3 linked regions of the Homo sapiens genome follow. The protein of the gene in region 3 interacts with the protein of the main gene of each other region in a pairwise test. Each region holds a gene or a part of one and is shown on either strand. Other genes may lie near its edges.

The links.
Region 1: the proteins of TUBA3E (region 3) and FHL3 interact in binary tests that used the Homo sapiens proteins (3 or more experiments, as listed by UniProt).
Region 2: the proteins of TUBA3E (region 3) and NMI interact in binary tests that used the Homo sapiens proteins (3 or more experiments, as listed by UniProt).

Annotation. Positions count from the first base shown.
Region 1 is NC_000001.11:38,002,487-38,010,237, forward strand, and holds the start of FHL3 (four and a half LIM domains protein 3), read right to left. Parts: upstream 3,029-7,751; 5' UTR 2,871-3,028; intron 1-2,870. UniProt on the Homo sapiens protein: Recruited by SOX15 to FOXK1 promoters where it acts as a transcriptional coactivator of FOXK1.
Region 2 is NC_000002.12:151,286,630-151,293,870, forward strand, and holds the start of NMI (N-myc-interactor), read right to left. Parts: upstream 3,040-7,241; 5' UTR 2,964-3,039; exon of another isoform or gene 2,262-2,963; intron 1-2,261. UniProt on the Homo sapiens protein: Acts as a signaling pathway regulator involved in innate immune system response.
Region 3 is NC_000002.12:130,195,421-130,203,241, forward strand, and holds the start of TUBA3E (tubulin alpha-3E chain), read right to left. Parts: upstream 3,020-7,821; 5' UTR 2,941-3,019; coding exon 2,938-2,940; intron 952-2,937; coding exon 729-951; intron 1-728. UniProt on the Homo sapiens protein: Tubulin is the major constituent of microtubules, a cylinder consisting of laterally associated linear protofilaments composed of alpha- and beta-tubulin heterodimers.

The sequences.
Region 1 (7,751 bases), on a different chromosome or scaffold from region 3:
GGTTCCCAAAGTGCTGGGATTACAGGCATGAGCCACAGTGCCAGCCCAATTTTTTTTTTTTTTTTTTTTTTGAGACAGGGTCTCACTCTGTCACCCAGACTGGAGCGCAGTTAACTCCATCTCGGCTCACTGCAATCTCCACCTCCCAGGTTCAAGCGATTCTTCTGCCTCAGCCTCCCAAGTAGCTGGGATTACAGGAGGGCACCACCATGCCCAGCTAATTTTTGTATTTTTAGTAGAGATGGAGAGTTTCGCCATGTTGGCCAAGCTGGTGTCCGCTCAGCCTTTTTGTTTTTTTTTTTTGTTTTGAGTTGGGGTCTCACTCTGTTGCCAGGGCTGGAGTGCAGTGGCACGATCATGGCTCACGGCAGCCTCGAACTTCTGTGCTCAGCCAGGTGAGGTGGCTCACACCTGTAATCCCAGCACTTTGGGAGGTTAAGGCCGGTGGATCACCTGAGGTCAGGAGTTCAAGACCAGCCTGGCCAACATGGTGAAAACCCATCTCCACTAAAAATACAAAAATTAACTAGGCATGGTGGCGGGCGCCTGTAAGCCCAGCTACTCAGGAGGCTGAGGCAGGAGAATTGCTTGAACCGAGGAGGTGAAGGTTGCAGTGAGCCAAGATCATGTCATTACACTCCAGCCTGGGCTACAACAGCAAAACTCTGTCTCAAAACAAAACAAAACAACAACAAAAAAAACAACTCTGGGCTCAAGCAAACCACCTGCCTCAGCCTCCTGAGTAGATGGGACTACAGCCATGTGCCACCATGCCCAGCTAGGTTTTTCTATTTTTTGTAGAGATGGGGTTCTCACTATGTTGCCCAGGGTGGTCTTGAACTCCTGGCTTCAAGTGATCCTCTGGCCTCAGCCTTCCAAAGTGCTGGGGTTACAGGCGTGAGCCACTGTGCCCAGCCTGGTCTGAAATTTGACCTGGACATTCTCAGCATAGGCCCAGGGAGAGAATAGGGGGCCCCAGGCCCATGGGGCTTGCTGAGGACACCAGTGGGGAAAGTGGTCGCTTCAGTCCGGTCAGCCTGACTCTAGTAAGCTTAACTCTTGAGATCTCTCATGCAGGTCCACGGATGTAGACACCTGCATGCTGCTTTGCCACTCACAAAGTCCATGCCCACCACAATCTCATCAGATCTCACAAAAGGCAGGCAGGACAGAGTATCATCCCCATTTTACAGCTGAGCACAAGGAGGCCAGGAATAGAGCAGGTTCATGCCCAAGGTCCCGATCAGGACCCAGGTCCCCTGCCTCCCAGCCCAGAGCTCTTCCCTCTCCCTAAAAATGCTGCCCTGGTGATGAAGCGGATGGTGACATGGGGGTGGTCAGTTTTTAAGGGCAGGGGAACAGGAGATGCACCAGAGCCTGGCTCTTCTCCTCAGCTGCTAGCCCTGTGATTGGAAGACACCCAGAAGCCTTTCCAATGCCCCATGCCAACCATTCAATCCTTCTGCCCCCACCCCCAACATGCCCACTGTCCAGGAGGACCCTGGCCAGGTCCCACAGCTGTGAGTCAGGATCAGAACAGACCCCTCCCCCACCTTCTAGAAGCTGACAGGAGACTTAAGGGGAGAAATCCAACTCCCTCAACCCTCACCCTCTGCTACCGGGCACCAACCCCAAGCTCTGCTCTCCCCCATGTGGCCTGGAAGTCAGAGAAGTTTAGGGAAGGGGGTTGGGGAGCAAGATCCCGCAGCTGCTCTGGGGACATGAGAGGAACAGTTCATTCACCCTGGGTCCCCCAGGGCTGAGGCAGCCCATCCAAGATTTGAGTTCAAAAATAAGTTGGGGCTGTCTTGGTGGCTGTGTGTGTGCGTGGGGCTCTTCTTGATCTCGAACTTACTGTCTCAGGGCCTCTGCCTCATGGGGGATCGGTAGGCTCAGAGTTTCTGTTTCCCCACAGCCTCACCTCCCAATGGTTCAGGCCCGGGTAAGTCAGGGGCTGTCCTGGAAGCTGTCAGACCACCTAGGTCTCTCTGCCCCCACTTAGTCTCAGTTTCTGGTGTCTGTCTCTGCTTCACTCAGCATCTCTGTGTCTGGGCACACTTCAGTCTCTGTCTTTAGGTTTTGGACGGCTCTGTATCTTGACTGGCTGTCCCCCAGGGGGCCCATGCCTCTGTGGATCTCAAGTCTTGGTCTCTTCTTGTCTACATGGCTGAATGTCTCAATCCCCACCACCTCCCTTTCTCTGTCTCTGCATCCAAGTCTCTTTCGCCACCTCTGCACGCCTGAATGTCTCTGTCTCTAGTCTCTGAGCGTCTCTGCAGGCCTCAGAGAGCAGATTCAGCATGAGGCCAATGACGCCCAAGCCTCAGGGCACCTCCAAGGCCCGGGGAAGGGCCCTAGGGAATGTGTTCGCTGGGGTCCCACGTATGCTTTTTCTGAAAATGCTCCACAAAGCCTAGGACGGCCCCCATGCCTCGGGTCTGTCCACCAGTAACTCTGTACGCCCGGTGTGTCCTTGTTTCAGTGGTCTCGGTAGCCTCCTGTGCCTCGAGTCCCTGCCTGTCTCGGTCTCTCGCTCCACCGGGCTTTCCGAGAACCTCAGTTTCTCCAGCGCTTCTGGTCGGTCGGTCTGTCTGTCTCTCTCCGGCTTTTCTATTTCAAACTTAGCCCCCTCCCCCGCCCAACTCTCGCTGCCGCCCCCGCCCCCGCCCCGCCCGATAGCCCGGAGGGGTCCAGTCCCGGCGGGCGCTGTCCCGGGCTCGGCGTGCCCCGGGCACCCGTGGCCAGAGCCCGGCGGGTACAGGGGACCGGGGCCGCGGCTGGCCTCAGCCCTCCGCGGGTCCCTTCGCTCCCCGGCCTGGGCGCGGGGGCGGACCGCCAGGGCTGGGAGCCGGGGTCGGCGGGGCGCTCACCTCGAAGCGGGCGGCGGGAGCGGGGAGCGCGCGGCGCAGGCGGGGCCGGGAACCGGGCGCCGCGTCCCTCGGCGGCTCCTACCTGCGGGCCGGGCCAAGCGGGGGCCGAGCGAGCTGCCGGCGAGGCTGCCGACTGCAGACGGACCGTGTGGGCGAGTGGGAGCGCGGCCCCAACCCCTCCCCGAGGAAGTGAGCGCGGGCCCGCCCCGCCCGGACCCCGCCCCCGGCCCCCCAGCCCGCCGCGGGGGCCAGACCCCGCCCCCACCTCCCTTTCGGCCGCCAGTCGGCCCGGCCCCCTCCTCCCGCCCGGCCTAACCTGGCTCTCCCAACCTTCAAGCGGCCGGGACCCCGCCCCTGTCCCCTCCCCGCAGCCTCTGTTCTCCTCCCCTCCCACCCCCCATCCCCAGCTGCCAGAGGGAGACTGCTGTATTCCATCTCAGGCCGGCGACACGAGACCCCGCAGACCATGGTCCACTGGGGGAGTCCTCTGGCCTCCTCGGATCCCCCCACCCCTTCACCTTACCCCAGGGGTGACACTCAGCCCGGCCTTAATCCAGCCTGGAGGAGGACGTTTTGACTCTGCTGTCATGAGCCTGTCAGCGGGCACCAAGGTGTTCTCTGAAAACATGGGACGAAGAGAGGACCCCTCCCCACCATAGGGCCTTGACCTCCAAAGGGTTTTATTCCACAACTTTGAGTAGCAAAAACAGGGGTAACCACCTCCCCACTTCCAGCAGCCTCCTGACACTGAGAAGTCCTGCCTTGCCTGGGTTTCCGCAGTGCCCAGGAATAGTTTTGACCTTTGAGGCCCGGGGGAGACCCTAATCCTCGGCCCCATGATCTTTGGGCTTCTAGGGTGGGGTGTGAGGAGTGTGAGAGGATGGGGCACCTCAGGGGTGGTGGAGGAGAGGGGAGGGGACCTCTGCGGTGTCTGAGCCTCTGGCTTCCTCCCTGTGTCCGTGAGGGAGGACTGGCGCCTGCTAGGGACACGAGGCCCCTCCAGGTCCTTAAGGCCACCCCCCCTGGGATCCTCAGGCTTGTCACTAGGAATAAATAGCCTCAGTCTGGAAGAGGTGGGGGAGGGAGGGAGGCAGGAGGCTCTACTGTGCTGTTTGTGGAAACAAGAGACAACAAATCAACCCCGGAATAACCTTAGCATCTAGAGTGAAGATTCAGGTGCCCACAGAGGCCTCCCCACACCCCAGGCTGGGTGTAGCAGAGCTCTCACGGAGGAACTAACACCCTCCCAGGCTGGGGCTCCTGAGAACCTTTCCGTCCCATCTCTGCATCATGCCTGGGTTCCTGGGTCCCAAGTCACCCACCAGGTCTGGTTTCCTTTCAAAATTAAATCATTGCTTGCTTATTATTGCTGTTGTTGCCTAAATGGTAAGAGCCATGAAGGCAGGGCTCCGTTTTGTTCCCCACTGCCTTCTCAGTACTTACTCCAATATCCGGCACATAATAAACATCTGATGAATGAATGGATACCAGACACTGCTTCAGTATGTATGCCCCTCTAACATCCTCGGTTTGGATCACAGGCACCTGCTATCTGGAGTCCAGGCAGTGAGCATCCAGCCCATGGATGGGGCCTTTTTCTGGGATTTTTTTTTTTTTTTTTTTTTTTTTTTTTTTTGAGATGGAGGCTTGCTCTGTTGCCCAGGCCGGAGTGCAGTGGCGCACTCTCCGCTCACTACAACCTCCACCTCCCAGGTTCAAGCGATTCTTCTGCCTCAGCCTCCCAAGTAGCTGGGACTGCAGGTGTGCACCACCACGCCCGGCTAAATTTTTTTTTTGTATTTTTAGTAGAGACGGGGTTTCACCATCTTGGCCAGGCTGGTCTCAAACTCCTGACCTCAAGATCTGATCTGCCTGCCCCAGCCTCCCAAAGTGCTGGGACCACAGGCATGAGTGACCATGCCCAGCCTCTCTGGGATGTATCTTGCAGGTGTAAGAGACTCCCAGCCCAGGGGAGTGCAGTGAAGACTACTCAGCCTTGGTGGAGTGGGTACCAAGAGGAGGTCAGCTCTGGGGGACGGGAGGGCAAAGGTGGGGAGCCTTCAGAAAGCAAGGGGTTATGAGTGAGTACAGAAGGGGCCTGATAAAAGGCAGAGTATTGGAATCTCTGTTCTTGATGCATGGCTCTAATCTCTCCTAAATAGCCTTAATGAGAGCCAGTACTTCCTGAGTTCTTTCTTTGCACCAGTCCTGAACACTTTACATATATTGACATACCTGATTATTCAATAACTTTATTAAATATATGTGCATCTATATTTGTTTGTTTTTGAGACAGTGTGTTGCTCTGTCACCCAGGCTGGAGTGCAGTGGTGTAATCACGGCTCACTGTAACCTTAACCTCCTGGGCTCAAGCGATCCTCTTACCTCAGTCTCCCAAGTAACTGGGACTACAGGTGTGGGCCACCACACTGAGCTAATTTATTTTAATTTTAATTTTTTGTAAAGGCAGGGGTCTTATTAAGTTGCCCAGGCTGGTCTTGAACTTCTGGGCTCAAGCAATCCTCTTGCCTCAGCCCCACAAAGTGCTGGGATTACAGGCATGAGCCACTATTCCTGGCCTAAATATATATTTTCATCCTCATTTTAAAGATGAGAAAATGGAGGCACAGAGAGATTAAGTAACCTGGCAAGGGCGACACAGGTAATAATGGCAAAGCTAGGATACAAATCCCAATGGTTGGCCGGGCTTGGTGGCTCTTGCCTGTAATCCCAGCACTTTGGGAGGCTGAGGCAGGAGGATTGCTTGAGCCCAACAGTTTAAGACCAGATCTGGGCCAGGCGCGATGGCTCACGCCTATAATCCCAGGACTTTGGGAGGCCAAGGCGGGCGGATCACGAGGTCAGGAGATCAAGACCATCCTGGCTAACGCAGTGAAACCCCGTCTCTACTAAAAATACAAAAAAATTAGCCAGGCGTGGTAGCAGGTGCCTGTAGTCCCAGCTACTCTGGAGGCTGAGGCAGGAGAATGGCGTGAACCCGGAAGGTGGAGTTTGCAGTGAGCCGAGATTGTACCACTGCACTCCAGCCTAGGTGACAGAGCGAGACTCCGTCTCAAAAAAAAAAGACCAGATCTGGCAACATAATGAGACCCCGATCTCTATTAAAAAAAAAAATCAAACCGACTGGGGGCGGTGGCTCACGCCTGTAATCTCAGCACTTTGGGAGGCTGAGGCAGGCGGATCACGAAGTCAAGAGTTTGAGACCAGCCTGGCCAACATGGTGAAACTCTGCCTCTACTAAGAATACAAAAATTAGCTGGTTGTAGTGGTGCATGCCTGTAATCCCAGCTACTTGGGAGGCTGAGGCAGGAGAATCGCTTGAACCCAGGAGGAGGAGGTTACAGTGAGCCAAGATTGCACCACTGCACTCCAGCCTGGGCGACACAGCAAGATTCTGTCTTGGGGAAAAAAATAAAAATAAAAAATCAAATCTGGACAGTCAGAAGTCATAGCACCCTATGCCAAAAATGAGCTTCACCATTAGGCTCTAGTATCTGTAGTCATTTAATCTCTGTGAACCTCAGTCTTCTCACTGTGAAAAGTGAATGAGTCTGCCTCACAGCATTGTTGTAAGGATTGGATGAGAGCACACAATAGATTGTCAATATGTGGGGACAGTCCCCACTTTCATGATCAAATGTTAAGGTTCAGCTACTTGGACTTGGAGTCTGGGGGCCAGAGAAAGTTAGCTCTCTGGCTTGGGCCACCTGGGCTAGGGAGAGCGGCCTAGGGGCAAGCCGCCCACAGTGAAGCTGTGTCTCCCTGTCTCAATTTCCATTCCCCAGGAGGCTCACATTTCTCTGCTCACTCTATTTTCGTTGGCCCAGGAGGACGTGCCCCAGGGAAGTCCAGGGATCAGCCACAAGGACTCCCTGTTCCTGTTCCCTATCTGTCCTCCTCCCTCCCTGGGAAACAGGTGTGTCTGAACTGGGGCTGGAAGCAGAGCCTGAGAGCTGGATGACTGGCCTTGGGTGAGTAGGATCCTGTTGTCCCTCACTCACCCTAGAGGTCCCCACACACTCTTCTTTATCTCATGCTTAGGGCACCCCTGCTGTTTTTTCACTCTGCAAGGGTTTTCAAAAGGAGGCCCTGGGTGGCTACTGACAGGCCTCTCATGGTTTCCTGTGAGTGCTGAATCACTCTCTGATGCCTGTAACCATAGGCCCTCCTTCCCCCTAGTGAGAACACAGCCTTTTTCCTCTGGGTATATTGCTCACTCTTACCTACTGGCTGCCTAGAGCTCTTGCAGGCCTCAAGGCTTGGTAGATAACCTCTTCCAAATTGCCCAGATGCTTTCTTCTATTTTTTTCTTTTTCTTTTTTTTAAGATGGAGCCTCGCTTTGTCACCCAGGCTGGAGTGCAGTGGAGCAATCTCGGCTCACTGCAACCTCCGCCTCCCAGGTTCAAGCTATTCTCCTGCCTCAGCCTCCTGAGTAGTTGGGACTACAGGCACACGCCACTATACCCGATTAATTTTTGTATTTTTAGTGGCGATGGGGTTTCATCATGTTGGCCAGGCTGGTCTTGAACTCCTGACCTCAAGTGATCTGCCCGCCTTGGCCTCCCAATATGCTATGATTACAACCATGAGCCACTGCGCCTGGCCGTCCAGAAACTTTCCTTGTGACCCCAAGCTGGACACTGAATTTGTGGGTGGAGAGGGTGAAATAAGTAAGTGACTTTCACAGAGCATGGGAGGTGGGGAGGGCAGAGCAAGAACTAATGTAGTTAAATGTTGACTGTGTGAAGGGCACCATGCCACGTGGTAGTCATTACCTCTTTCTGTCCTCACAAAAACCAGAAGAGGCAGTTATTATTATCATCATCACCATTTGACAGAGTAAGACAAGCTCAGAGAGT
Region 2 (7,241 bases), about 21 Mb from region 3:
CCCTTCCCTGAGTTTTTAATTCTGAATTCATATCACAGAAAGAAGACTGAAGTCTGTCAACAAACCTGGGTTACAACCACTGTCTGTTCTGCAAGCCCAACAGGCTTTGTCCAAGGCCATTGTATGTTCTTCGAGTCCCTTGAATTCCTTTAAAAATCATTTACTAACCCCCTATAATCATCCACACTTCCACATCTCCCTTTCCCCTAAAAAGTAGGGAATATAACCATCTGTACCCCATTGTGCAGTATCATCACTATGTGATTTTTTTCCCCTGTGCACATTAATAAATTTGTATGCCATTTCTCCTTTTTAATCTGCCTTTGCCCTTCAGAGAGCAAAGAGGAAGTTTTCCCTTGACCCCTACACTATCCAAGACACTATCAGGACAACTGGTGAAATTCACATTGGATCTGATTATTAAATTGTAGTAACGTAGCACTCCACATTCCTGATTTTGATGACTGTATTGTGGTTATGTCGGAGCACATCTTTTTTGTAGGAAATATATACTCAAGTATATAATGAAAGATGATAGGTCACCAGATTGGAAATTTATTCTTAAATAATTTAGGAAAAGGAAAAGTTGTTTTACTGTACTTGCAACTTTTCTGTAAGTTTGAGATGCCTTGAGACGATATATATATATAAGTATATATATATTTAAACCACATCTCTCTCTCTCTCTCTCACACACATACACACACACACACACACACGCATACATATATACATATATATCGCTATTGTATCAACAACTGCAAAATCTTCTTAATGGTCAGCCATGGTCTGATACATTCTAACTCCAACTCACTTTCCCGTCCTATTTAGTCAATTCCTCAACCCAGTTCCCTAACCACACTGAACACTTGGATAGTTCCTTTTCTTTCCTCTGTCCCTCAAACTGTCACATCCTTCCTCCTCTCCCAAACTTAATCTCCATCTAATGAAATCTTACTGTTCTTCAAGGTCCATTCCAAATTTTCCCCAAGCTCCCGAAGCCTTTTCTGATTCCCCCAAAGGATGTTACTCCCCCTCCTTTATCTCCTTTGCGGCGCTTTAATTACGTGTGTACCTATGTCATTTTCCGTGACACATCAGTAAACATGTTGAGGGCTGGGACCATGTCTACTCCTCCCTGCAGACATTCAGAGCACTTTCTCAGTATAAGCTTACACACTGAAAACACTCCATTTAGAGAATTATGTGGTATCTTGACTTAAGTATTTGTTGTACTCAGGACATCACATGTATATGAAGTCCTCTTATTACATTTCAGAAGACAGAAACTGCAATGTTATTTAATTGCTTTTTATTTTTATTATTGTGACAATGCCAATATTCCAAGAGCCTGTAATAAAGGCTCTCAGCATAAATGGTCTACTATCTAACACCACCAGAACCCTTTTGGCATCTTTTGCATCTGGATACTTTTGCTCTATGCATGAGTGGGATGTATGGTCATTCCTTTTATGCAATCATGTAGTAGGCAAAACAATGGCTCCCTCAAAGATGTCCACATCTTAATCCCAAGAATCTGTGATTATGTTAGTTTATATTGCAAAGGAGAATTAAGGCTGCAGATTGAATTAAGGTTGCTAATCAGCTTGCTTTTAAATATGGAGAGCATCCTGGATTATCTGTGGGAGCCCAGTGTAATCATGAGGCTACTTAAAAGTGAAAGCGGAAGACAGAAGAAGAGTCAAGAGTGAAATGTGACCCCGGAAGAACTTTCAGAGGCGCAATGTTGCTGGCCCTGAAGATGGAGGAAGGGCTGCTGAGCCAAATAAGGTAGGTGGCCTCCGGAAGATGGAAAGAGGATTCACCCCAAGAGCTTCCAGAAAGGAAGGCAACCCTGCCAACACTTTGATTTTAACCCAGTGAGACCTCAGTAGGACTGCTACAGAATCCTAAGATAGTAAATTGTGTATGTGAGTGTGTGTGTGTGTGTGTGTGTGCGCGCGCGCGCGCGTTCCTATGTGTTTAAGCCACTAAAGCCATGTAATTTGTTATGGCAGCGAATTAAAAAAACTGATACAAATCAACATCACCGTATTTCCGTAATACAATCATATAACTGCGGTGCCAGGCCGTGTAGAATCGAATCTTCCTATATGCATGCGTGGCAGCAAAAAGAAAGGCAATAGAACGTCTGCCTGTTGTACAGACTGGAAACACAGTATTCTCCTTCGGATGTCTCCTTCAAGAAAAACCTTGCCTATTCTGACACGCCAGCCATGACTGCACAACACTGCCCCTACCAAGAATCGTTTTCTTAAGAAATCCGTTTTCCTAAGGACTATCTCCAGAGACACTCGGAGAAAACAGCGAGGGCCGGGCGCGGTGGCTCACGCCTGTAATCCCAGCACTTTGGGAGGCCGAGGCGTGCGGATCACGAGGTCAGGAGATCGTATCCATCCTGGTTAACACGGTGAAACCCCGTCTCTACTAAAAATACAAAAAAAAAAATTAGCCAGGCGTGGTGGCGGGCGCCTGTAGTCCCAGCTACTCTACTCGGGAGGCTGAGGCTGGAGAATGGCGTGAACCCGGGAGGCGGAGCTTGCAGTGAGCCGAGATCGCGCCACTGCACTCCAGCCTGAGCGACAGAGCGAGACTCCGTCTCAAAAAAAAAAAAAAAAAAAAAAAAGAGAGAAAACAGCGAGGAAACACAAATAACTTTATGTTTCAATTTCCTCAATGAAGCAAAGCAAACAAGTGACAAGGCTCGAAGCCCTGACGGCCCAGAGACTGCACAGCGGGCCCAGGAGCAGGTGCGCCCCCTCGAAGGCGGCGTGGCCTCCGCGACTCGGCTGCGGGCAGCTCCCGGGGAGCAGGGTCTCAACTCCGGCGCTGTCCCACTTCCGTCGGCGCTGAGGGCTCCCACCTCCCTTTCCACCCCCGGCTCTCCAGCCCGGGACTGCCAGCGGCGGGAGTGGCAGCCGGGGAAGGGACTCCCCACTCACCCGCGTCCGCCCGCCGAGCGCAGCTCCCCAAGGCCCAGCGCGCCTGCCCTTCCCGGAAAACAGCAGCGCCTGAAACGCCGGAACCCCGGGAGGCACTGGGAGGGGAAGGCCCGGGTTCTCGAAACTGTCGCTGCCTCCTGCAGAAGCGCCGCGGGAGAGCTGCGGGGTCTTCCTGAGGAGGTGGCCCTCGCAGGAACAGCTGGGTTCCCCGCGAAAAGAAAAAGACAGTGAAAAAGAAAACTGCTTTAACGGCGATTTTTCTTTAGCATTTAACCAATGCTCAAATACTAAACATGGTTGTCTCCAATGATTAGTCACTAACAGAAAAAAAAACTAATTTCACTTTCGATTTTTAAAAAGGGGTGGTTTTGCGGAGGAAAGCAGAAGTATACCTGAAGTTTCCGTACACACTAATTTTAGGGAACGCTTTCTAAAACCAGTTTTTTGCATGTATTTTATAAGGTATGTTGGAAAAGTGGATAGAAACCAAATAAAGTCAAAGCAGGAATCGCTCTTCATCAGATTGTAACTCTTTTGTAATTTCTTAGTCATTGTAACACTAGTTGACAAATGTTTACAGTCAGCACAAGATCGGCGTTTCTGTGTCTTTTGTAACATCCCCCGGGGCCATGAAGTTGGGAAAGCTGTGGTGTTCCTGTTGGTTTCTGTGACCCATGTCCCTTGAAAGTTTTCTTATAATCTCTTGTTTTGTTGTGGAGCTTGTAAATAAATACTTCACTAGGTGTGAACTTTTCCTTTGAAAATTCAAACATCTGGTTTATTTCAAGAACTGCAGTGTCTCTTAATCCCACACAAAGAACCACCCCACAGCTGCCCCGGCTCATAAATACAGATGTGGGAAGAAAATGAGTCAAAATTATTTCAAGGCATAAATTATAGGTTATCATGCTACCTAGTCACATATAATAACTGATACAGTGGTCTAAAATAGTTTAACAAAAGTAAAATTTCTTTGTATCAAAAAGGTTGATGGGAACCAGTTTAAAGTGGTGACATTTCTCTTTTTTTTTTTTTTTTTTGAGATGAGTCTTGCTCTGTTGCCCAGTCTCCAACTCCTGAGCTCAAGCAGTCCTTCCACCTCCACTCCCAAGTAGCTGGGATTACAGGAATTCACGACCGCACCCAGATTTTTTGTACTTTTAATTTGGGTGCTGGGGGCAGGTATCTAACTGTTTCCCAGGCTGATCTTGAGCTCTGGCCCAAGTGATCCCACCACCTCAGCCTCCTGTAAAATGGCATTTCTAAGTAAAAAAAACGACTTCTTTGTGCTTATCAGACCAGTTAGAAAATACAAAAACTCCTTCTGCTGCAACTTGAGAAAGAATTACTTTAGTTTTACCTTGAAATTTTAGAGGGAATATGAACTCTCGAGGTTATTTAGTTGAACCTCATTTCTTCTTATTTTTATTTTTTACAAGAAGATACTAAAGGACAGGACCATGGCCAGAACAGGACTAACTTAATATATTGACTCAGATTCTGTTTAAAAGGCAAATGATACAGGTGGAGGGGAAGTCTTTTTGGACACCTACATTCTAAAGCTGAGACATGTACTAACAGTCTGAATTTAACTCAGCTTCAAATCTGGTATTCTGCAAAGTGTTAGAGATCTGAAGATGAAGAGTTGGCTCCTGGACATACTATTAATAATTGTAATTGCTAACATCTACTAAGAACTCCTGGACATTTTATAAACCTTTTTGTTTTGCCAACAACAATATTAGATATAGGTATTATTCCCATTTCTTTTCACCTGTCTGAAGCAGGCAGGAAGGTATTATCCCCATTTTGCAGTTGAGGAAACTAAGGCATAAAGAGGTGACCCAAAATCAAGCAGTTAATATATGGTGACAATGATATCATACTCTACTCTCAACAATATCTCCAAACTGTGTCCTAGGGTACATGGAGAACATGGAATTTTATGGCCCAATACAATTAGGAAATGCTGCATTCTGAATCCACTTTTGGAAATTCACAATGCACATTGGCACATTAAGAGTTCCAAGAAGTATTGCAGGGAAAAATTAAAAATTTGTGCATATTAAAAATTTTAACTTTATTCAACCTTGAACTTATCAAATCAATTTGAGCGATATATTCTTTTTTTCAAGGAACAGTTATTAAAATCTTGGGGAGTTTCTGATGGGACCTTTCGAGGAATGCTCTAGTAAATTACGCCCTCTCCTAATATAAAAGTTATTTATTGATGTTATCATGCACTCAATAAATATGTTGCACATGAGCTGCAGCACTCTGTGCCTTGGATATCTCATGTAAATCTACACAGATGTGAGGTGAATATTATGTTACACATTTGTCTCCCTGACTACATGGCAATGAACTCCTCCCAGGCTTTCTATAAAGACACACACACACACACACACCAGTATTACATACAGTCTAATGTGTGTTGGAAGGGGTAGGATACCAGAAGTAGTAAAAAACAAAGGAGAGCGTAGTCCCCTCTACCTGAGGAGGTCAGGGAAGTTTCCTTCACAGAAGAGGTGAAAATTGAGTTGATTCATTAAGGTAGAGAAAGTAGACTGAGAAGAAAGATCGGGTGAAAAATCTCAGAGGGATGTGCAATGGACTAAATGTTTGTGTTCCTCCAAAATTCGTATGTTGAAATCCTAACCCCCAAGGTGACAGTATTAGGGCTGGGGCCTTTGGGAGATGATTAGGTCATAAAGGGTGGAGCCTAAATGAATGAGATTAATGCCCTTATCAAAGAGGTCCAAAGGAGTTTGTTGACCTCTTCTGCCATGTGAGGACACAGACAGAAGGTAATCTATGAATCAATAAGCTGGCTCTCACCAGACACTAGATCTGCAGGACCCTGGATCTTAGACTTGCAGCTTCCAGAACTGTGAAAAATAAATTCTGTTGTTTATAAACTACCAGTTTATGATGTTTTATTATAACAGTCCAAAAGGACTAATATAGCATAAAACAAATGGGAGGCACCAAGAGTTTAGTGATTATGCAAACTATGAGAAAGCTACCTGATATCTATTACATGATGATTCTCTTTTAAGAAAAGGCTACTACACCAAGCTTATGCTGCTGTTGCTAAGATTGTGTTGATCTGGTTTGCAGTTCATCCTTGGGGAAACTGGAACACTTATGCCCAGTATTGTGCAAGATCCTGGGGGGATACAAATGAATTCTGTAACTTCCTTCTAGTTTTCAAGAGTGTTCCCATTGGACTACATAAGTGGTAAAGGAAAATACTTACTCTTTTATCAGGCAAGCAGTACTGTATAGTTAAAAGCATGATTTTGGCCAGACATGGTGGCTCATGACTATAAACCCAGCATTTGTGGAAACTGAGGCAGAAGAATCACTTGAGTCCAGGAGTTCAAGGCTGCAGTGAGCTGTGACTGCACCACTGTACTTCAACCTGGGCAATAGCACGAGACCCTGTCAAAAAGTAAATAAATAAATAAAGCATGGTTTTGGTGTCAGAAATGGGTTTGAATTTCAATTTTTAGTTACTGAAGTTTCTCAGCTTCAATTTTCTCATCTATAAAATAAAGGTGTGGTGCATGAGATAGAGATGCATTTCAAGGACTAAACACAGTGCTCTGCCCATGGAAAGCACTCACTAAATTGTACTTGTTTCATCTTATACTACGGTGAGATTTTTTTTCAATTTTTCTCTTACATTTTCTTTATCTTTGTTCTTCCTCCCTAGAAAAGTACTTTTAAGAAATAAGGTCATTTAAAAATTTATTTTATGTTACCTGCAGTAACTGTACCTAGTGCACACTGTATAAATAGTTATTTCTAACTAGTCATTAAATACTAGAGTAGGAGTAAAATACTCTGGACCCAATGTTATAACAACCCCTTTGTATAGCTTTTCATACTCATGTGTGTGAATAAGTTTTTATAAGTGAATAAAATATTATGAGGTAGATCAAATACTTAGAAATAGAAATAAATTCAAGCAAAATAATAATAATAAAATTAAAGAATAAAGGACTTTATCTTGTCAAATCTGCCTGGACCACTGATTTATCATATAAACATAAACAATCACTTAGAAAATTTTGTTGTGTTAAATAAAGTACATAGAGAATAAAGTTGGTATCCTTGACAATGCTATAAAGAAGAACAATTAGTGTTTTGCTTATAAACTAAAGGCTCAAAAATAAACATTTATCTGTAGTATTCAAGGCTGTAAGATAGCAGTAAATCTCAATATTATATTAAGGAAATTTCTTAAAGAAAGTCTGAGAATACTGCTGATGT
Region 3 (7,821 bases):
TCTACGACGTTAAACTCAGCTTGTGGTATAAATGTCAGCACGACCAGTTCCCAGTGAAAGGAAATAAGCTCTTGCACTCCTACTCAGGTACATAATTCTTTCCTACGTGTAGCTACATCAAAGGCTGTAAGTTAAAAACTCTTACAACCTGGGCAGTCACCAGGTCAGTGTGACTTCTGCAGGGCAGTCCCATCAGGGCACCCTGGATGACCTGGGTCCCACAGGCTTTCAGGTGATGCTGTCATCTCCTGGGGGGCCACTGAAAGGTGCTGCCTCTTTGTAGCTCTCCTTGGAAACTACCTCAGGCTGCGAATCTGAAGGAAGCAAATGACTGTTCTGTACTTACCTTCTATGCCTAAGATGCAGGTCAAGACTCTCGTGCACCAGCATAAGAGAATGCACAGCATTCGGGAGGGAACCAATGCCACTGCACCCTGCAGGCAGGGCCACCTGAGCAGGGCTGAGGCAGCCATGAGGGAATCTCTTCACAGCCCATCTTACTGCTGGCAAAGCAGCTTTTCCCTGTAGGTCAGGTTTTCCTAAATTAGGAGCCGAGTCTCACAGACACTTTCATCACAAACCTTTCAGTTTCTCTCCTAACAATGCCATGGGCATATGCCTGTCTATCCCATCCTTTCAGCAGGAGGATTCAAAGGAGCCCACACGGGGCTTTACCAATGCTCTCCCACCCTCTCAGGAAAGCTGCCATCCAGTGCCCAGGCACCTACCGACCACAGTGGGCTCCAGGTCCACAAACACTGCTCTGGGCACGTGCTTGCCAGCTCCAGTCTCACTGAAGAACGTGTTGAAGGAGTCGTCCCCGCCACCAATGGTTTTATCACTTGGCATTTGACCATCGGGCTGAATTCCATGTTCAAGGCAGTACAGTTCCCAGCAGGCATTGCCGATCTGGACACCCGCCTGCCCCACGTGGATAGAGATACACTCGCGCTGTGAACCGGAACATAAATGTGAACCCATTCATTTCAAGGCAACTTGAAACTATATGGCATGCAAAATATTCTAATTTAATATTTATATAGTGCTTCAGTATCTGGCGCTTTCACAATCGATATTTCCTAGGAGGGTTAGTGACTGATCCCTTTATCGCTGTGAAAACTAATTGCTGTAAACCATACTAGCTAGTAAGTTCTAGAAGTAGCCCTAGAACCTGTTTGCCACTACACAAAACTTAGGTTATTTTAAAACTTGGAAGCCATTTAATGTCAATAATCAACCCCACATTATAGCCCGTCACAGTAATTCTCTGAAGAATAAGTAGCAGTTTTTGATTATGTCCTGATCAAAGGATAAGGTAGTCGGGTTGGGTAAGGAAATACAGAGTAGGTCCCAGGTCACCATGGTCCAAGCCCAGGTGCTCAGTGTGTGTCCTCTCTCTGCCCCCCAGTTCTACCCCGTCCATCATTCACCACCTGCTCTGTGCTCTCGAAGGCTGACCCTTGAGAACAGCATCAGAGGCCTTCCTCGCCCTCTGGCTTCTTGCTGGTTTGGTCAATGGCAGGCAGCAGTGGGATACTGGGGGGCTGGAGGAAAGCAGTGCCAGGGTACTCCCTCCTTGGCCCCTTCCTGCTCAACTGCTGTGGGTGACCTGAATCCCTCTCAAGGCTACACTTTTGGCAGGCTGCCCTCTTCATAAAACTACCCTCCTAATTTCTTGTAACCACGCCCTCTCTCTACCCCTTGAAGCCTACGGGTGTAATGGCTCCCAGACATCATCAGTGCTGGGACACTGCACTGTCCTTTGGTGGTTTCTTTAAACTCTGCCAAGCTGGGTGTGGTGGCTCATTCCTGTAATCCCAGCACTTTGGAAGGCTGAGGTGAGAGGATCACTTGGGACCAGTTTGAGACCAGCCTGGGTAACATAGTGAGTCCCTGTCCCTATGAAAAATTTACAAATTAGCCAGGTGTGGTGGCACACACCTGTAGTACCAGCTACTCGGAAGGCTGAGGCGGGAGGACTGCTGGAAGCCAGGGGTTCAAGGCTGCAGGGAGCCGTGATCTTGCAACTGTGTTCCAGCCTGGGCAACAGAGCATTTATTGAGTGCTGTCTCAAAAAAAAAAAAAAAAGAAAAGAAAAGAAAAAAGAAAAAGAAAGGAAAAAAAGGATAACTGACAAATCACAGCTATTCAGACTTGGGACTTGGGAATCTGTTATGTTAATGGGCTGCTTTTTTTGTTTGGTTTTTTGAGGCAGGGTCTCTGTGGCCCAGGCTGGAGTGCACTGGCGCCATCACGACTCACTGCAGCCTCAAAGTTCCAGGCTCGGCTGATCCTCCCACCTCAGCCTCCCGAGTAGCTGGAACCACAGACTCGCATCACCATGCCCGGGTAATTTTAGTATTTTTTTGTAGAGACTGGGTTTCGCCATGTTGGTCGGGCTGATCTTGAACTCCAGACATCAGGGGATCCGCCCGCCTCCACCTCCCCAAGGGCTGGGATTCCAGGCGTGAGCCGCCGCGCCTGGCCTAACGGTTGCCTTTAGGTGAACAAGGCAATGTTGCAGCAGCGTCTGAGCCTTAATTCCTCATCTGACCAATGTCCACAGCCCCAACCCCCGTCACCGAAGGCTCCTGCAGCTCCTCAGCTGTTTCCAGTAGCACAAAGACGTGTGAAGCGGGAGCAGCGCCCTCCTGTCTTCAGGAGGCGACGCCACTATTTGCTCTCTGGGGGACGGGATACCGTCAATGGTCCCCGTCCACTAAAGGCCGGCAGCTTCATCTAAAACAAAAGCCGCCGTCCCTGCCCTGGGACCTGCAGATCCAGGAAACGATCCCGTGTCCTCCTGTCCCGCACTAGACCCTGCGTCCTTCTCTGGCCTCCTCTCAGCGCCCAGGCCCGCAACAACGTCCCTCTGTCCACCCGAGGCCAACTTCGTCTGCCTGGGCATCTGCGGGGCGGGAGTGACCCGGGTCTTACCATGGCGAACTCCGCTGCTTCAGCCCAACGCTACTTCCAGACCTCAACCGGCTGCCACAGCTGCTGAGCGCCCAACTGCAATGACCTGCCCACGCGCGCCGCACAGGATTGGCCTGCCGGTGCCAGGCCGCCATTGGCTCGGAGTTCCTGGGAGGCAGGCCGAGGGCCGGATCCCAGTTCTGATTGGCCGTTGCTCAACACGTGTAGTGGGGATGCTCTCTGATTGGATGCAGGATTGGCGGGAAGGCAGCGGGGTCATCAAAGGCTGCGCGGTTGCTGAGGCATTTCCGGGGTGTCTTCCGACCAGGATTGGAACAGCTACTGCGCTGCCTCTGTGGGTCGCGGAACATTGCCTTGCTCCCAGTGTGCCACTGCCCCTCCCTGATTGCCCCAGGCCTGCTCCTCTCCCTGCCTAATTCAGATCTTTGCAAACAAGGCCACCTCTGAGAGGCCTTGCCGCCATCTACCCAAGTCACAGCAGCACCGCAATTATCCCCCTCTTCCCTGTTCCCACCCAGCACCCGGGAAGTGGCAGGATTCAATCACTTTTCTGACCCAAAGGGAGAAAACGGGCCGGGCGCGATGGCTAACGCCTGCAATCCCAGCACTTCGGGAGGCCGAGGCGGGTGGATCACTTGAGGTCAAGAGTTCCCGAGACCAGCCTGGCCAATATGGTGAAAACCCATCTCTACTAAAAACACAAAAATTACCCTGGCTGGTGGTAGGCACCTGTAATCCCAGCTACACGGGAGGCTGAGGTAGGAGAATCGCTTGAAACTGGGAGGCAGTTGTTGCAGTGAGCCGAGATTGGGCCACAGCACACTCCAGCCTGGGCAACAGAGCCAGACTCTGTCTCAAAAAAAAAAGGAAGAAAGGAGGCAAAATTAACGTAAGTGGAGAGGTTGGGCCAGGCACACCAGCTCATGCCTGTAATTCCAGTGCTTTGGGAGGCCACGGCAGGAGGATTGCTTCAGGTCAGGAGTTCGAGACCAGCCTGGGCAACGTGGTGAGTCCCACCTTGCCCGTTTCTACAAAAAATAAAATTAGCAAGGCATGGTGGCATGCGCCTGTAATCCCAGCTACTCAGGAGGCTGAGGCAGGAGAATCCCTTGAACCCGGGAGGCAGAGGTTACAGTGAGCTGAGATCACGCCACTGCACTCAAGCCTGGGTGACAGAGCAAAACTCCATCTTGAAAAAAAAAATAGTTTATTTGGGCCAAGTTTGAGAAGTGCAACCCTGGAGATGCAAGTTGTCTTAAAATATTAGCAGCAGTTATAAGTGGGTTTTTAAAGGAAAAGAAGAGGCAGTTCCTAAGTTGTTTACCAAGAATTTGAAATTAGAGAAGTCTTGCTGTGTTGTCCAGGCTAGTCTTGAACTCCTGACCTGAAGGGATCCTCCTACCTCGGCTGGCCTAGCCTGAGGAATTTATATTAAAATAACGTAAGCTATTTATTGGGCCAGGCGTGGTGGCTCACACCTGTAATCCCAACACTTTGGGAGGCCAAGGTAGGAGGATCACTTGAGGTCAGGAGTTCGAGACCAGCCTGGCCAACATGATGAAACCCTGTTTCTACTAAAAATACAAAAATTAGCCAGGTATGGTGGTGAGCACCTATAGTCCCAGCTACTTGGGAGGCTGAGGTAGGATAATCACTTGAACCCAGGAGGCAGAGTTTGCAGTGAGCCAAGATCATGCCATTGCACTCCAGCCTGGGCAACAGAGTAAAACTCCATCTCAAAAAAAAAAAGAAGGCAGGGCGTGGTGGCTCACGCCTGTAATCGCAGCACTTTGGGAGGCCAAGTCAGGCGGATCGCGAGGTCAGGAGATCGAGACCATCCTGGCTAACACGGTGAAACCCCGTCTCTACTAAAAATACAAAAAATTAGCCGGGCATGGCTGCAGGTGCCTGTAGTCCCAGCTACTCTGGATGCTGAGGCAGGAGGATGGCATGAACCCGGGAGGTGGAGCTTGCAGTGAGCCGAGATAACACCACTGCACTCCAGCCTGGGCAACACAGCGAGACTCTGTCTCAAAAAAAAAAAAAAAGCTATTTATTGTCTCTACATTGTCTACATTGTCTTTGGTATCACAAATTCCAGGAACAGGAAGATAATGGGTTGAGCTAGTCAGGAACAAAATGCCTTTAAACAGTCACCCCAGGGCATGAGTACAAGGCGTGTGACTGAAGTCCATATTCCTGTCTCTCTGGGCCTGATAAATTCTGCACACCTCACATAACTCAAAGTGCTGTGAACACTTTTTCTTATTTCTTTGGTGAGAGGGAGTGGGTTTATGGCCAACAGGAAAGGGGAAGGCACACCCCTGTCCCGGGAAGAGCAGAGTCAGGACCCAATACCCATTTTGGAGGACTTTGGAACAGTCACCTGATTCTTCCTTTTTATTTATTTATTTTTTGACACTGGTTCTCACTATGTTGACCAGGCTGGACTCAAATTCCTGGCCTCAAGTGATCCCCAAGCCTCAGCCTTCCTTGTAGGCTGGGACTACAGGTGTGTGATTCTTCCCAGTTTGAGTCTTCCATCCCTAAAGATCATCTTAGTGTGTATTCAGTTCTGGGGAAAGCCCTGGAGGAGACGTGCTGGCTTACCCCCAGCTCATCACCAGGATGCAGCATCCCACCATGTCATCTCCCTGGAGGGTGGCCAAGCAGGCCCTTAACTTTCCCTCCTGAGAGGAGAGCAGAGAAGAGAGAGGGAGCTCCCCCAGTGGGATGGGACTCACGAGGTCCAGGAGTTGAGACTTTTCTGTGGCCTTTGGGGACCTCTGAACAGTGCAATCAGGTCTTCCCTTAGAAAGATGCTTTGGCAAAAGGAGGAGGGGCAGGGACGGAGTTCTGCCGACAGCTGGGAAAATCAGAGGAGGCCACTGGCCCCTTCTCCCCAGGAGGGTGAATCCTTCTGTATTAGCCCCAGGCACCCTAAAAAATACCACTGACTGAGTGGCTTAAACAGCAGGGTTTTATTTTCTCACAGTTCTGGAGGCTAAAAGCCCCAGAGGCCTCTCTTCCTGGTTTGCACACAGCCACCTTCTCACCATGTCCTCCCACGGGGAGGTAGCATCCAAGCGCTCTGGTCTCTTATAAGGACATGAATCCTGTTGGATCAGGGCCCACCCTTATGACCTCACTTAACCTTCATCATCTCCTTATAGGCCCTGTCCCCAACTACAGTCACATTGGGGATTAGAGCTTCAGCGTCTAATATTGGCGGGGGGGGACACCATTCAGTCCATAGCCCCCCTTCCTCAGGGCTCCAACCACATCATGCACAGAACTCAGCTGTAGCCCACATCACACGGTGCTCTTCAGTCCAGCCACGCATCCTTCAGCGGCTGGGATACGTTCTCGACAATGCATCATCAGGTAATTTCGTTGACGTGAGAACATCACAGAGTGTTCTTAGACCAACCAAGGTGGTGCAGCCTACTGCACACCTAGGCCACATGGTATAGCATATAGCCCCTTGGCTACAGACCTGTACAGCAAGGATTTATGTATCTAAACACAGAAAAGCTACGGGAAAAATATGGTATTATAACTTTATGGGACCACTCTTATATATATGCTGTCTGTTGTTGACCGAAACATCATTATATGCTACGTGACTGCAATATTTATTTTTCTGATTATAAAAGTAACACATATTCCCAGTAGACAGTGTAGAAAATTAGCAACAAACTATTCTACTGTAAATGACAAAAGAAAAATTGAGCCTTGGACATGCCCATTTTTACTGTAAGTTATGATTCCATAATTGACTTGCAGTAAACAGTGTTTCTGGCCCCTAAGTATTGCTGCCTTGTGTATTTTATTTAGTATACAGCACTAAAAAAAACAGTCCTGTGAATTATTAAATCATTTCAATAAGTCAGCTAACAACGTTTACATATAGTTGCTACACAGAAAGGAACACAAATTATTTCCTCTTTTGCTCATATTCAAACAGGCTTGAGTGACAACTTGAGGACAAGGCGGCGCCTCGACAAGATTTCACACAGCAGCTACGGGGGCCAGAGAAGCAGCACCGCATGGTGTGGCAGGAGAAGGAGGACATGCACAAGGTAGGCAGTTTGGTTCTGGGTGAGAAAGGCTTAAGAGGCTTTGCAGAGTTTTGTAAGGTTCATTTCATACAGATGTTTACAGACCTCCTTGGGACTCCCACTCATGGACTGTCCCTGCTGCAAGCAGGACAACAGGGCCAAGCCTGGTTCCAGGGCCCCTGCTGTGCCCAGTTGCTACACAGCCCATGTCAGCTAGCTGGGCTTGGCTCCTTGCCATGGGTGCCTTTCAGCGTGCTGCCTGCAGCAGGCACCCACTTCACAGTCATCATCTGCCATCTCCAGTTCAACCCCGCAGAGTAAGCAGCAACTCCCCCAGCCCCGCCCATTCTGAATGAGGAACGATGTCCAGAGGGCACTGTGTTATCTGCAGTGACACGCTGCGCCTGACACCAGTGACCTCGTCCTTCTCTCTACACCATGCCCCCTGCTCTTAGAAGGGGCATCTTAGTAAGGACAGGGAACTGCAAAAGAGGACATATGTTAAAATGTGGCTGATTCCCCCATAACTCCTTTATAAATTTGGTTTTTAGTAAGATATCTGAACTTTATATTCAAATGCCATTAAGTATAGTAATAACACAATTAGGTTCTTTTTTCTTTTCTTTTTTCTTTTTTTTTTTTTTTTTTTGAGACAGAGTCTCTCTCTGTCACCAGGCTGCAGTCATGCGATCTCAGCTCACTGCATAGGCTCTGTTTTCTAAAATACATTCATTTATACACTGAAGTCCTTGGACCTGTAGTTTGTGATCTGTCCTCTAAAATGGGGCAGATTTTAAAACCAAATTGCTTCTTAAGATCATCT